Linked DNA regions of Homo sapiens. The protein of the gene in region 3 interacts with the protein of the main gene of each other region in a biochemical or structural test. Each region holds a gene or a part of one and is shown on either strand. Other genes may lie near its edges.

What was found. Proteins that work in one complex are often made in the same cells at the same time.
Region 1: the proteins of CDC5L (region 3) and PRPF3 form a complex in vitro, tested with the Homo sapiens proteins (one study listed by BioGRID).
Region 2: the proteins of CDC5L (region 3) and BCAS2 form a complex in vitro, tested with the Homo sapiens proteins (one study listed by BioGRID).
Region 4: the proteins of CDC5L (region 3) and RPA1 form a complex in vitro, tested with the Homo sapiens proteins (one study listed by BioGRID).

What each region holds. Positions count from the first base shown.
Region 1 is NC_000001.11:150,324,533-150,328,032, forward strand, and holds part of PRPF3 (U4/U6 small nuclear ribonucleoprotein Prp3), read left to right. Parts: intron 1-362; 5' UTR 363-410; coding exon 411-555; intron 556-1,218; coding exon 1,219-1,349; intron 1,350-3,024; exon of another isoform or gene 3,025-3,120; intron 3,121-3,500. UniProt on the Homo sapiens protein: Plays a role in pre-mRNA splicing as component of the U4/U6-U5 tri-snRNP complex that is involved in spliceosome assembly, and as component of the precatalytic spliceosome (spliceosome B complex).
Region 2 is NC_000001.11:114,575,116-114,578,615, reverse strand, and holds part of BCAS2 (pre-mRNA-splicing factor SPF27), read left to right. Parts: intron 1-1,857; coding exon 1,858-1,928; intron 1,929-2,864; coding exon 2,865-3,026; intron 3,027-3,500. UniProt on the Homo sapiens protein: Required for pre-mRNA splicing as component of the activated spliceosome. Component of the PRP19-CDC5L complex that forms an integral part of the spliceosome and is required for activating pre-mRNA splicing.
Region 3 is NC_000006.12:44,425,706-44,429,205, forward strand, and holds part of CDC5L (cell division cycle 5-like protein), read left to right. Parts: intron 1-397; coding exon 398-478; intron 479-776; coding exon 777-1,019; intron 1,020-3,500.
Region 4 is NC_000017.11:1,882,005-1,885,504, forward strand, and holds part of RPA1 (replication protein A 70 kDa DNA-binding subunit), read left to right. Parts: intron 1-1,807; coding exon 1,808-1,940; intron 1,941-3,500. UniProt on the Homo sapiens protein: As part of the heterotrimeric replication protein A complex (RPA/RP-A), binds and stabilizes single-stranded DNA intermediates that form during DNA replication or upon DNA stress.

The DNA of each region.
Region 1 (3,500 bases), on a different chromosome or scaffold from region 3:
CATTTCCCTGGATCACTTTAGTCTTTTTTTTTTTTGTAGAGAGAGTCTTGCTTTGTCGCCCAGGCTGGAGTGCAGTGGTGCGATTTTGACTTGTTGCAAGCTCTACCTCCCTGGTTATTCCCCTGCCTCAGCCTCCCAAGTAGCTGGGATTACAGGCACATGCCACCACGCCCAGCTAATTTTTTTGTATTTTTAGTAGAGGCAGGGTTTCACCATGTTGGCCAGACTGGTCTCGAACTCTTGACCCCAGGCAGTCCATCCACCTTGGCCTCCCAAAGTGCTGGGATTACAGGCATGAGCCACTGCACCCAGCCCACTTTAGTCTTTTCTTATTCTCTAACTTGTCTCTTTTTTTTTTTTAGGTGTAGTATTGAGTCCTGTTTGAGCTATTGTTCTCTTTTTCCTGAAAAATGGCACTGTCAAAGAGGGAGCTGGATGAGCTGAAACCATGGATAGAGAAGACAGTGAAGAGGGTCCTGGGTTTCTCAGAGCCTACGGTGGTCACAGCAGCATTGAACTGTGTGGGGAAGGGCATGGACAAGAAGAAGGCAGCCGGTATGTACCTTTCTGCATCTTTTATCTTAACATATAGGGTGACCCCAAACACTGCTTTGAACTTCCTCAAAATTCTCTCTGTTGGGAACATCTAAAAAAATGGCAGGCCATATTTTATTTTCACCTGTATTATAGTGAAAATAGGCTAAATAATAATTTGCTTTTTCTCTTAATTGCTTATTTTTTATGTTATTTATGATAGATTTTAAATCTTCGTTTGGCTACCATACTGAGTCACCTAAGTTAGATTTACTTAGGAAGTATGCTTAAGTCAGATAGGCATATTCAGATTCAGACTGAACATCTCAACATACAAAAATCTTTATGAAATACATGAAAAAGCTTGAAGGAGGTAGATTTTGTTAATGGTAGGCTTCTACAACTTGCTATTTGGGAAAGGTGAGGGTGGTTATTCATCTCAAACTTGATGTTCAAGGTAAACAGGTTGCTCTAACTGCACCACTTCCCACGCCAAAAAATTATAACTATTTTCACCTCACAGGGCAAGGTCATTTAGTGTAAGAGAGATGGGAATCCTACAAAAAACTTAAAATTTGTTTCACTCCTGGGAATAAAATTCCAGTGTTGGTACCTGTTATAGGCCTAGTATTAGACTGTGTACTCTTACCTTTCCAACCCTACCACCGCCTTTCTTCCTGTCAGATCATCTGAAACCTTTTCTTGATGATTCTACTCTCCGATTTGTGGACAAACTGTTTGAGGCTGTGGAGGAAGGCCGAAGCTCTAGGCATTCCAAGTCTAGCAGTGACAGGAGCAGAAAACGAGAGCTAAAGGTAGGTTACAATTTACTGTCTAATGAGCTCAGGACTGTTTTGAATGGTAACAGAGTTGCTGAGCTTACCAGTTCACACGTTGATATCCTCTATTTAGAGCAGCAAATGTTCAAGAGAGGTACTTAGACATTAGAGTAGGAGAGATGAATTAGTGTCATCACCATCTGAACTACCTCTAAGTTCATGGGTTGAAATATCCAAAGAAATAATTGGCAGCTTTGTCTTTTTTTAGATAACAGGAGTTTTGATTCTCATGTTTCTCCATATTTCCTTTTTTTCCTTCTTACTGTTACTTATAAACTGATTGCTCTAAGATTTTATCTTTGATTTATTTGAGGCCTAATAAGTTGTTTTAGAATGTGACTCCACTGGTACCTGAGCTGTACACCTCATTGTTGCCTCTTTGTAGAGGTTTCTCTGCAATGCACTTGTAGATAGAATACCAAAAAATAACTATTATTTATTATATTCTTGAGAGCTTACCATTTGCTCTATGGCATATTGCTGGTCCTCTGCTGCCATGAGTGAAACACTTGGAGGAGTTGTCAGTACCCCCTTAACTACTACACTTTTTATTCTGTAGTTGCCGACTGATCCTGGCCTCTTTCAGTATTAGCAGTATCAAGTAGCCTATTTTTCTACTCATTTCCCAGTATCTCTCTTTAGGAGAAAAAAAAAAGTTCTGTGACTCCTATCAAACCTTCCAAAGTTCTTCTGATACCTTGGCTATCCCATTACTTTTCCTGAGGGAAAAGAGTGAATAAGTAATGTCTGCTTGGTCCCCTGGCCAGGCTATGGAACTAAAAAAAAAAGCAGAGAGATTTGTGCCCTTTGTGTTTGGAGCATTGTAGGGTGGTCAGAGAAGGAGAGATAGTCCTTGCCTTAAAACAATTTGTAATTTGTCAGGCAGTGTGGCATGTGCCTGTAATCCTAGCTACTTGGGAAGCTGAGGCAAGAGGATCTCTTGAGCCCAGGAGTTACAATTTAGAAGAGGCAGGGGTATCACAAAATATATATTCACGTATTATAAAATCTAAGTAGCAGTTTCATGTAAATTTTAGGGTTGGTTATAGAATTTCAGACCTATGTTGAATTTTGTTATATTTAAGGTGGAATGATTGATCCACAGTATACACAGATCTGTACAGTGAAGATTATGTCACGATAGGGCATACTTCTTTTTTTTTTTCCTTTTTTTTTTTCTAAGGGTGAGTCTCACTCTGTCGCCCAGGCTGGAGTACAGTAGCGCAATCTTGACTCACTGCAACTTCCACCTCCCAGGTTCAAGTGATTCTCCTGCCTCAGCCTCCTGAGTAGCTGGGATTACAGGCACATGCCACCATGCCTGGCTAATTTTTGTATTTTTAGTAGAGACGGGGTTTCATCATGTTGATCAGGTTGGTCTCGAACTCCTGACCTCAAGATCTGCTCGCCTCGGCCTCCCAAAGTGCTGGAATTACAGGCATGAGCCACTGCGCCTGGCCAGTAGGGCATACTTCTGTATGAGTGCTGAGGGCATGCTGTGAATGAAGTGACTACATTGGGTGGGATTAATAAAAATGGCTTCTTGAAGGAGGTGTCTAGATAGCCTTGGGATACGGGTCCCATTTTTGGTCCATTCAGGTCCCCACCCCACACAATATATTATGGGAGAGTCCTTTTTCTTGAACTGTAGGAGTTCCAGGAAGCGCTCGCCCCTGGCCGAGGATATGTCCTTGCAAAACACGAGCCCTCCTAGTGAAGAGGGGATGTCACCCAAAGCCTACCACCGGTGTGTACATTTGCTTTTTCCCATTGTCCCTTCCAGTTGGCCACTCTCGGTCCTGTTAAATTCACCTTGCAAATTAGTCATCATATTTGAGTTTCCATTGTTTGATGAAAACAAAGTGTTAATGGGGATTACTGAAGAAGAAAGAGAAAGCCCCTGTCCTGGAAGAGCTTAGACTTAGTTGGGAAAACTATACTAACATTGAAATACTTAACACTTGGCAAACAGAATATCAACAATGTAATTTAACCTAATATGAACCAAGCTCTTACACGCTAAGAGAATGTGAAACAAAAGTTTAATCAGAGTGGGATAGGTTATAATGAGGAAAACTTCTTGGAGGAGGTGAGTTTTAGGCAGGATTTGGAACAGGGGTTGTGGAA
Region 2 (3,500 bases), on a different chromosome or scaffold from region 3:
GTGGTTGAGGAAGGCCTCTCAAAGCTAAGATGAGACTACTCCATGAGCAGGGATTGCCCTTGCCGCTCCATGAACACTGGCTTAGTCTTTGGAGAGAGATGAGCTAAAATTCCAGATTTATCACTTACTGAGCATGTGAGTTAGTTAAGGGTTCCTCCTATGCTACATGGCTCAAGACTACTTATACTGCATTTTTATACTGCCTCGTGTTTAATTGGCTGTTTACTCCTTGTCTGTCACTGCAGAATTTTCTAGCTAGAATGCCCTGGTTTTTTTTTTTGCAGGAAACTAGGTAACTACATTTTCTTAAGATTGTGTGTAATTTAGCAGTAGCCCCTGCAAAATACTTTCTGCAGAAAGAAATGCTTAATACGAAATTTTTTGTTTTTTGTTTTTTGTTTTTTTGTTTTTTTGTTTTTTTGTTTTTGAGATGAAGTCTCACTCTGTTGCCAGGCTGGAGTGCAGTGGTGTGATCTCAGCTCACTGCAACCTCCACCTCCCAGGTTCAAGCAATTCTCCTGCCTCAGCCTCCGAGTATCTGGGATTACAGGCACGTGCCATCACGCCCAGCTAATTTTTGTATTTTTAGTAGAGATGAGGTTTCAACTTGTTGGCCAGGATGGTCTTGATCTCTTGACCTCGTGATCCACCCACCTCGGCCTCCCGAAGTGCTGGGATTACAGGCATGAGCCACCTCGCCCGGCCTAATAAAAACTTTTAAACATTCATGCAGGCTTCTGTAAGGCCTTTGATACTTATTTAGTCTAATTGTTAAGATAGTTGAAACCCTCAGAAAATTAAAATTACATGGAATAACCGAAGTATTACTACAAAGAAATATTTTAAGCAGTTCTTTATCCTCAGGGTAGGAAATGTGCAGAATGGAAATGGGTTAGGACGTTGGCCCTAAAGAGGAACAGCTATACTACATTTACTTGCGAACAGTAAAATTGCTAGAGAAGATAGTGAATATAAAGAAAAGACACTTTGGGAGGCTGAGGCAGGCCGATCACCTCAGGTCAGGAGTTCGAGACCAGCCTGGCCAACATGGTGAAACCCTGTCTCTACTAAAAATACAAAAATTAGCCAGGCATAGTGGCAGATGCCTGTCATCCCAGCTACTCGGGAGGCTGAGGCAAGAGAATCGCTTGAACCCGGGAGGCAGAGATGAGCCAAGATCGCGCCATTGCGCTCCAGCCTGGGGGACAAGAGCGAGACTTCGTCTCACAAAAAAAAAATAAATAAATAAATAAATTATTTCTTGGATTTCTGGAGGCTGGAAAGTGTACGGTTCACAGGCTGCATCTGGTGAGGGCCTTCTTGCTGGTGTGGACTTGGTGTACAGTCCTGAAGCAGCACAGGGCATTACATGGCAAGGTAGGGGCACACAAGAGAAAGACAAACTGGCTTTTATAACATACCCACTCTGGTGATAACTTATTAACCCATGAATGGATTGAGCCTTCATAACCCAATCACCTCTTAAAGACCCCACCTCTTAATACTATTACATTGGGGATTAAGTTTCTGTATGAATTTCAGAGGGGACAAACATTCAAACCATAGCACTGTCGAACTGATTCTGATATGCTTCTGGAATTAAGAACCACTGGTTTAGGATTAATCCTTTTCTCTGTGGGCTCCTTAATACATGCCACTTTTCCTGAATGTGAAGTGAGTGAGTGAGTGTGTGTGTGTGTGCTTCAGATTCTAGAGAGCATTTAACTCAGAGAAGAATTAGGGAAAGGTAAACAATTCATTATAATGGGTAGTGTAGCTTAAATCTGTTCTTTGGTGATTGTTAATTTTTAGTTGTCAACATGATCTTAGAAATCTTTTTTCTGATTTACACATCAGACTGACATAATGAGAAATGAATTTGAAAGACTGGCTGCTCGACAACCAATTGAATTGCTCAGTATGAAACGGTAAGAATATTAAAATGGAAATTAAAATTTAGTTTGTAGTAACTCAGTAATGAGCTGAGATTTGTGAAGAATGTATTTGCTGGCTAATATTGGCAGTGTTGGCCGGGTGTGGTGGCTCACACCTGTAATTCCAGCACTTTGGGAGGCCGAGGCTGGTGGATTGCTTGAATCCAGGAGTTTGAGACCAGCCTGGGCAACATGGCAAAACCCCATCTCTACCAAAAATAATTAATAATAATAATAATAATAATAATAAACGTACCTGGGTGTGGTGGCACGCACCCGTGGACCCAGCTACTTGGAAAGCTGAGGTAGGTGGATCGCTTGACACCCCCCAGGAGATGGAGGTTGCAGCAAGCCGAGATTGTGCCACTGCACTCCAGCGTTGGGGACAGAGGGAGACCCAGTCTTGAAAAAAAAACTATATATATATATATATAGAGAGAGAGAGAGAGAGAGAGAGAGGCAGTGTTGAAGGACTGACTGGGTAGTATGAAGAGAGAATAGAAGGAGTCATATCGCTTCTCATTTTTTTCTCTACCGGCGCATGGGTATGTTAGTGGATGGGTGGGTGTGAGTATTTTACAAAAATGGTAGCAAACTTTTTTGTCTACTGCTTTTTCCCCTTAATATATTACTGACATCTTAATATTATTAAATATTCTTCAGTAACATTTAATAGCTAATGTAACAATCTTTTATGTGAATGTAATGTTGCTTATTTAACCAGTTCACATTGAAGTGAACATAATGGTGCTAAATCATATTTGTAAATTGATTGTTAGCATATATCGGTTTCTTATTATTGCAAGGTTTACATCCTTAGTCTTCTGTAGTTTTTATACTATATGGAGACTCATGGGACATTCTACTGAGAAGAGATGTAAAGGCTTGGCAGTATAGATGGTTTTATTTTATTTTGTTGTTTAATTTCAGATATGAGCTTCCAGCCCCCTCCTCTGGTCAAAAAAATGACATTACTGCATGGCAAGAATGTGTAAACAATTCTATGGCCCAGTTAGAGCATCAAGCAGTTAGAATTGAGAATCTGGAACTAATGTCACAGCATGGATGTAATGCCTGGAAAGTATACAATGAGTAAGAACCTTTTTCTTCATCTTCTGTTTTTTTTGTTTTTTCTCTTTTCTTTCCATCTCACCCAAAGTTTTAGTACATTTTAAAAGTATGGGAGGTGCTGGGTGCAGTGGCTCATGCCAGTAATCCCAGCCCTTTGGGAGGCAGAGGTGGGTGGATTGCTTGAGGTCAGGAGTTCGAGACCAGCCTGGCCAACATGGTGAAACCCCATTTCTACAAAAAAAAAAAATACAAAAAATTAGCTGGGCATGGTAACGTGTGCCTGTAATCCCAGCTACTCTGGAGGCTGAGGCATGACAATTGCTTCAGCCTGGGAGGCAGAGGTTGTAGTGAGCCAAGATTTTGCCACTGCACTCCAGCCTAGGCGACAGAATGAGACTCTATCTCAAAAAAAAAAAAAAAAAAAGAAAAGAAAAAGAAAAGCCGGGCGCGGTGGTTTACACCTGTAATCCCAGCACTTCAGGAGGCCGAGGCGGG
Region 3 (3,500 bases):
ATTCATAAGAATCAGGAAACAATACATTTTTTGGCTGGCTTTTTGAGTTAAAAGTCAGTAATTTTGGAGTGAAAGGGAAGAAAGAGTTTTGTCGTGGGAGTCTCTTTGGAGTTTAGGTTTTCCATTTAGATGAGAAAAGTTTGTTACGTGATATGGATCCATGCAAGTTTGGAGAATGCTCTAGTAGACATTGGAAGCTCTTAGTTTCTATTATAATGAGAGTGAATAGACTGATTCATTTCTGTTGCCTTAGCATTGCCTTTCTACAAACTTAAACCGATTTCTAAACTTTAGCTATTGAACACACATGATCTTACATACCAAAGTGTTTTTAGCTTTACTGAGAGATATCAAATACGCTATAGCTGCAATAAAGGATATAAAAATCATTTTTTAGGCCATACGAGATGCAGAGCGTGTAAAGGAAATGAAACGAATGCATAAAGCTGTCCAGAAAGATCTGCCAAGACCATCAGAAGTAAGTGTTAGAATTTCTGGTTTAGGAAGTTTTAAGTTTCTTTTTATATGATTGCTGCGTTTTACATCATTCATAAAGACTATAAAACAAAATTTCATCTACTTTCTGGAATATAGCAAAGTAGTTCTCAAATCCAATCTTTAAAATGTTTCAGTAGTACCAGAAAGAATTTAGAAGGAAAAAAATGGAAATTGCTTTTGAAAATGTAAAACCGCTGTTTAATTCATGCTGTAACAGGTAATAACATTAATATATTATAGTGATATGTTTGGTAATTGTATTTGTTTTAAAATTTTAGGTAAATGAAACTATTCTAAGACCCTTAAATGTAGAACCGCCTTTAACAGATTTACAGAAAAGTGAAGAACTAATCAAAAAAGAAATGATCACAATGCTTCATTATGACCTTCTACATCACCCTTATGAACCATCTGGAAATAAAAAAGGCAAAACTGTAGGGTTTGGTACCAATAATTCAGAGCACATTACCTATCTGGAACATAATCCTTATGAAAAGTTCTCCAAAGAAGAGCTGAAAAAGGTATGATTGAGCTGGAATATTTCTTCTTGAGATTTAGGTAGTTGTTAGGTGCTGTGTATCATGGACAAATAATGAACTTATTTTTCCCTGTTGGTATTCATAAACAACTGAAATGTATGATTAGGAGATGCATGTTTAGATTAAGTGTTATGAAAAGGACATGCTTTAAATACCTCCATCCCCCGTGTTCAGTGTGATAGACCTTTAGCAAATAAACACCGCCAGGGTGTTTTTGGTTCATGGGTATTAATGGCTTCGTTGACAGTTGTTACAGTTGCCGTTTTCTGTATTCAGCTCTGCTATCTCTGAATAAAAATTAGATGCCTTTAGTACTTAAACATCACTTATTTAGAATAATATGAAGAGGTGAGAGAGACTAATATAAAAATGTTTATAGATTAAACCTTTTAGCTATTGAAAGGAAGGAAGTATTTTTTTTACTGAATATATTCCCCTCACATGATTTCCCCCTACTCTTTTGGATAAGGACATGAAGAAATGATTTCTTATATGAAGTCTGTATCTGGTCTTTTCTTCTACATGCATTTTATTCCTTCTGTTTTGACAGAGCAAACAACTGTGATTGTAAATAGAAATCTCCATAATTGTATAAGAAGATACAGTGGGTCTCATCGTTGGAAGCAGAGTGGTCATTAGCTTAAAAGTCTTTTTTTCTTTAGCCTTCAGCCCTGAGGAGCAGTGATAGACCTATGGATTTGGAATGAGCTGCTGTATACTTAGGATAAAACAAACAAGATTCTTACAAACTCTCCTGTCTTCTCTCCTGCATTCTTCCTCTTTCTTCGCTTTTCACAATTTCTTACTTTGTGTTTTCTTTATTGCATAAGTAATACATTATTTATTATAGGATTTTTAGAAAATAGAGAAAGGAAGGAGGGTTTCGATTTATATTTCAATAACTTGTCCCTGATTTCAGAATAACTGAGTCACTCATTTTTTAGTAAGTGCAGTAGGGAAACTAACATCTGTTGAGTTGCCTACTCTGTCGAGCACATTTAATCATTGAACTGGGATTGAGAATCAGGCTACGAAATTGATACTTGCACAGTTTCCTCTTTTGAAAGTGAAAATATGAGGGGAAGAGGAATTTAGGAAATAAATTTTCCTAAATTGTATGTATGGAAACCTAAAACAAGGATCACATTGTTGCTTTTGGAGATTCTGTAGAGGGTAAACCCTAACACAATTTTTGAAAAATAATAATTCTAAGTATTGGTTTGTAATTGTTTGAAACAAAGTAGCTTAAATATTCTCTCATATTTTATCTGTGTATATCTCTCTTTGTTCCAAAAAGAATTTGAAGCAGCTATTTAGTTAGCAGATTATTTATGGATAGTTTAAAGATAACTTAGCCATATTCTCTCGTAATGATTATAAGATCTGAACTTGTAAATTTTTACTCTGTGCAGTTTCAGAGTGAAATAGCATTTCTCTTTTAATAAACTGTCAGATTTTCTTTTTCTTTAATATACTTTAAGATATGTTAACATTGATTTGTTTCCATTATTTCCCTTAAGGTATTAAGTGTCCATTTTTTCTTCTATAGAGATGATTTTCCGTTTCTTTTGTTAAAATTTTTTGTTTATCAATCATTTCTCTTGATTTTGTAGATTTTGATGTGTTTATTTTCATTATTACTGGAAAGATTGAAAGCCTTCTGTAAGGCACAGAAGGTGGTTCCCAGTTTTTCATAAGCCATGAAGCAAAGGGCTGGGAAAAAATTCATATGCTTATGGAATTCTGTGTGTCTGGCATTGGGCTAGGCTCTATAGTATATTGTTCACTTAATCCTAATAACAAACACATCTGATCTAAGGTCAGCATCATCATTGCTTGGAAAGCTGTTTTTCAGCTTTCCAGGCTGAAAAAGCCCTGAGAAATGGGCTCAGATAAATTAAGCAAGCTCAAAGAGCTGCTTCAATGGTAAAGCTGTGATCTGAACCCAGGCCTGTCCAGCTTTCCCTCTCATTCTGTCATTTTACACTATTTTCTTTAGTAGTGAACTAAACTGGTTTATGATCTATCATCTAATTCGTGCCCCAGTCTCATTATCTGGCAATGTCAGGGCATTCCTTCAGGATGAGAAAAATGCCATGTGACAAAAAGATGCCTAGCTCCCCTTTACCATCACGTGAGGTCCTGCACACATGGTGGAGTGGGAGAGTGGAAGGGGCACACCCAGTGGTGCCATTTGTATTCTGCCTCATCTGCCTACTAACGATGTGGTCTTAACAAGTGGTTGAATCTCTATGAGCCTTAGTTTCATTAGCTTTTTTTTTTTTTTTTTTTTTTTTGAGACTGAGTCTCACTCTGTTGCACAGGCTGGGGTGCAGTGGCACGATCCCAGCTCACTGCAGCCTCCACCTCCTGGGTTCAAGGGATTCTTGTGCCTCAGCCTCCTGAGTAGCTAGGATTACAGGCATGTGCCACTACGTCCTACTAATTTTTACATTTTTAGTA
Region 4 (3,500 bases), on a different chromosome or scaffold from region 3:
GGGATTTAGCCGCTTACCTGACAGGAGAAGGCAGCTGTCTGCAGCTCAGGGTAACATCCATTCTGTTAGATGGTCTCTGTTTAAGGAACCTGTTCTTTGTGTGGTTACCCACCTTGGGATGGTATTTGGCCTTTCATCTCCGGCCAGCTCCTCTCCGCCACCACTGTGTTCCCGAGCCACTTTCTCCTTGGCCCCTTTTCCTTCATATCAATTGATGTGTGATCAAGAAGTACAATCAGTTTTCATAATAATTTAATACAAATTAATTTAGCTTCGATATTAGCAAAAGTAAAATTTCACTAAGAAGGTAAATCTACAAGAAAAAAGATAATGCCTTCTGATAAGTTGCTCTGGTTTATAAAATCTTTTGGGCCAGGCACGGTGGCTCATACCTTAATTCCAGCACTTTGGGAGGCCGAGGTGGACAATTGCTTGAGGCCAGGAGTTCAAGACCAGCCTGGCCAACATGGTGAAACCTCGTCTCTACAAAAAATACAAAAATCAGCCGGGCCTGTAGTCCCAGCTACTCGGTGCGTGCCTGTAGTCCCAGCTACTCGGGAGGCTGAGGCACGAGAATCACTTGCCAGGAGGTGGAGGTTGCAGCGAGCCAAGTTGGTACCACCACACTCCATCCTGGGTGACAAAGCAAGACTCTGTCTCAAAACAAAAAAACCACTTTTGGCTTCTGTATCAGGCATAGGAGGCCTTTTATGGAAACACTTTTGCTACCACGGTATATTGGCTGTCCGTTTCCACACTGGTACATTTCGGTGATGATCACCACGCAGCTGCTGCCTGAGAATGAGCATTAGCAGATTAAAGGACTACCCCAGACGGCCACTTTATAGCTTACGGGTTGTTGACTTTCCCAGTTTCTGATTTTAGGCCTGGGGTGGTCTGGCCACTGCCAATATGCAAGGCTAGTTTAAGAAAAGATTCTTTGGTACTTTGGCACTGATTCTCTTCACCACTGGGGGGCATCAAAGCAACTGAGATTCAAAGAAAGGTCATTCCGTTTCTTCAGTAGACTTTGGGCCAGGAGCAGTGCCTCACGCCCTGTAATCCCAGCACTTTGGGAGGCCGAGGGAGGAGGATTGTCTGAGTCCAGGAGTTTGAGATCAGCCTGGCCAACAGAGCAAGACCCCATCTCTTAAAAAAATTTTTTTTTCGAGACGGAGTTTCGGTCTTGTTGCCCAGGCTGGAGTGCAATGGCGCCATCTCGGCTCACTGCAACCTCCGCCTCCTGAGAATTGCCTACAAGTGATTCTCCTGCCTCAGCCTCCCGAGTAGCTGGGATTACAGGCACCCACCACCACGCCCGGCTAATTTTGTATTTTTAGTAGAGACGGGGTTTCACCATGTTGGCCAGGATAGTCTTGATCTCTTGACCTCGTGATCCGCCCGCCTCATCCTCCCAAAATGCTGGGGTTACAGGCATGAGCCACTGCGCCCAGCCTAAAAAAAATTTTTTTAATGGGCCTGGGCATGGAAGTCCCAGTTACTTAGCAGGGCAAAGGTGGGAGGATCACTGAGCTCAGGGGGTCAAAGCTGCCTTGAGCCATGATTGCATCATTGCACTCCAGCCTGGGTGACAGAGTGAAACTCTGACACAATTTTTTTTAATTTAAATATTATAAAAAATATATAATTACGAAGATACCAGCTTCAGCCGACATGACCGTGACCTGTGTGAAAGCTGGGCGGGTGGTGGGAAACCTGTGTCTGTCGCGTAGCAGCAAGTTGCATGTGGAGAAGCAGAAGCATGTCACATCAAGCGCTCGTCATCGTTATTCGTTCACGTTTTCAGGTTTGACGCAGAAGGACAAGCCTTAGATGGTGTTTCCATCTCTGATCTAAAGAGCGGCGGAGTCGGAGGGAGTAACACCAACTGGAAAACCTTGTATGAGGTCAAATCCGAGAACCTGGGCCAAGGCGACAAGGTACCCAGCATTCCTAACCACCTTCACAAAGGGCTGTAAAGTGTGCAGAAGGATGGATTTAGAAACTTGGTTTCCAGCACCAGCTGTCAGAGCCGTAATTCTTACCCGGGGCTGTGACCTGAGCGTGGCATGGGGGTTGAGAATCACTGGCAGAGGGAAGCAGCCAGGTGTGCTCATGGGAATATGTGTTACCCCTCAGGGGACTGGAGGCAGGAGAGTCTGAAGAACTCTTAGAGTCAATTCCTAGAGGGATCTTGGAGCAGGGGTGACAGTCAAGCTTTGTGGTATAATATCACCTGCTTTCGGGTCCACGTTTCTTTCCTGTGATCCTTCCTGCAAATTTAAGCGCCCACATATCAAAAAGATGTTTTTTGAGATGAGCGTTAGTCCGCCTCAGGTCAGACATGAGGCAGTTTCACGGGTGCTGTTCCTGGCTGTAGAATAGTGTATTAACCTCATAGGCTGAGAGCTGCCGGCATTCCCGGACAAGGATTGGCCCTGACATTTGACTTTTAGTTGCAGCTTTTTCCTTTCAGTGTTTGTATTTAATGACCCTCCTCCCATCTTGATCTAAGCCTGTGTTCTGCCAGCAGTTTAGTATTTAGATCATTTATTTCTCCTTTACGCCTGCTCTTTTATTTTCATCATATACAGTGTAGGTTTCATTCCTCCTGTCTCATTTCACTGTATACCCTTATCCATCATTGTCAACAGCAGCTCTTAAGTGCTCTTATAGAACATCTCAAGAATTAAACACTGGACAGATCCTCGTTGTCCTGTCATGGGACACCCACTCTTTCGGTTCTCTGTAATCCCAGCTACCCAGGAGGCTGAGGCAGGTGGATTACATGAGCCCAGGAGTTCGACTGAGCAACATGGAAGACCCCTTCTCTTGAAACAAAAACTTTATTGCTGAAAAATGCTGACAATCATCTGAGTCGTAATCTTCTTGCTGGTGGGGGTTTGTTTCAGGGTTGATGGCTGAGCAGTCACGGCGATGGTTGCTGAACATCGGCGTGTCTTTGGCAGTTTCTTAAAATAAGACAGCAGTGAAGTGTGCCACATTGGTTGACTCTTCCTTTCACAAAAGCTTTCTCCATAGCCGGCGATGCTGTTTGACAGCATTTTACCCACAGGAGAACTTTTTCAAACTGGAGTCTCTCCCTCTCAGGTCCTGTCACTGCTTTATCAGCCAAGCTTATGCAAATTCTAAATCCTTTGTCGTCATTTCAACAATGCTCACAGCGTTCTCACCACAAGAGATTTCATCTCAAGAAAGCACTTTCCTTGCCCATCGTAAGGAGCAGCTCCTTATCCGTTCAAGTTTGATCGTGAGATTACAGCAGTTCAGGCCCATTTTCAGGCTCCATTTGTAATTCTAGTTCTCTCGTTATTTTCGTCACATCTACAGATCCCTCCTCCACCAAAGTCTTGAAGCCTCAGTGTCTACCTTGAGGGTTGGAATCAACTTGTTCCAAACTCCCGTTGATGTTGGGATTTTGATCTCCTCCCATGAATCATGAATGTTCCTTTTTTTTTTAACTTGAGACAGGGTCTCAT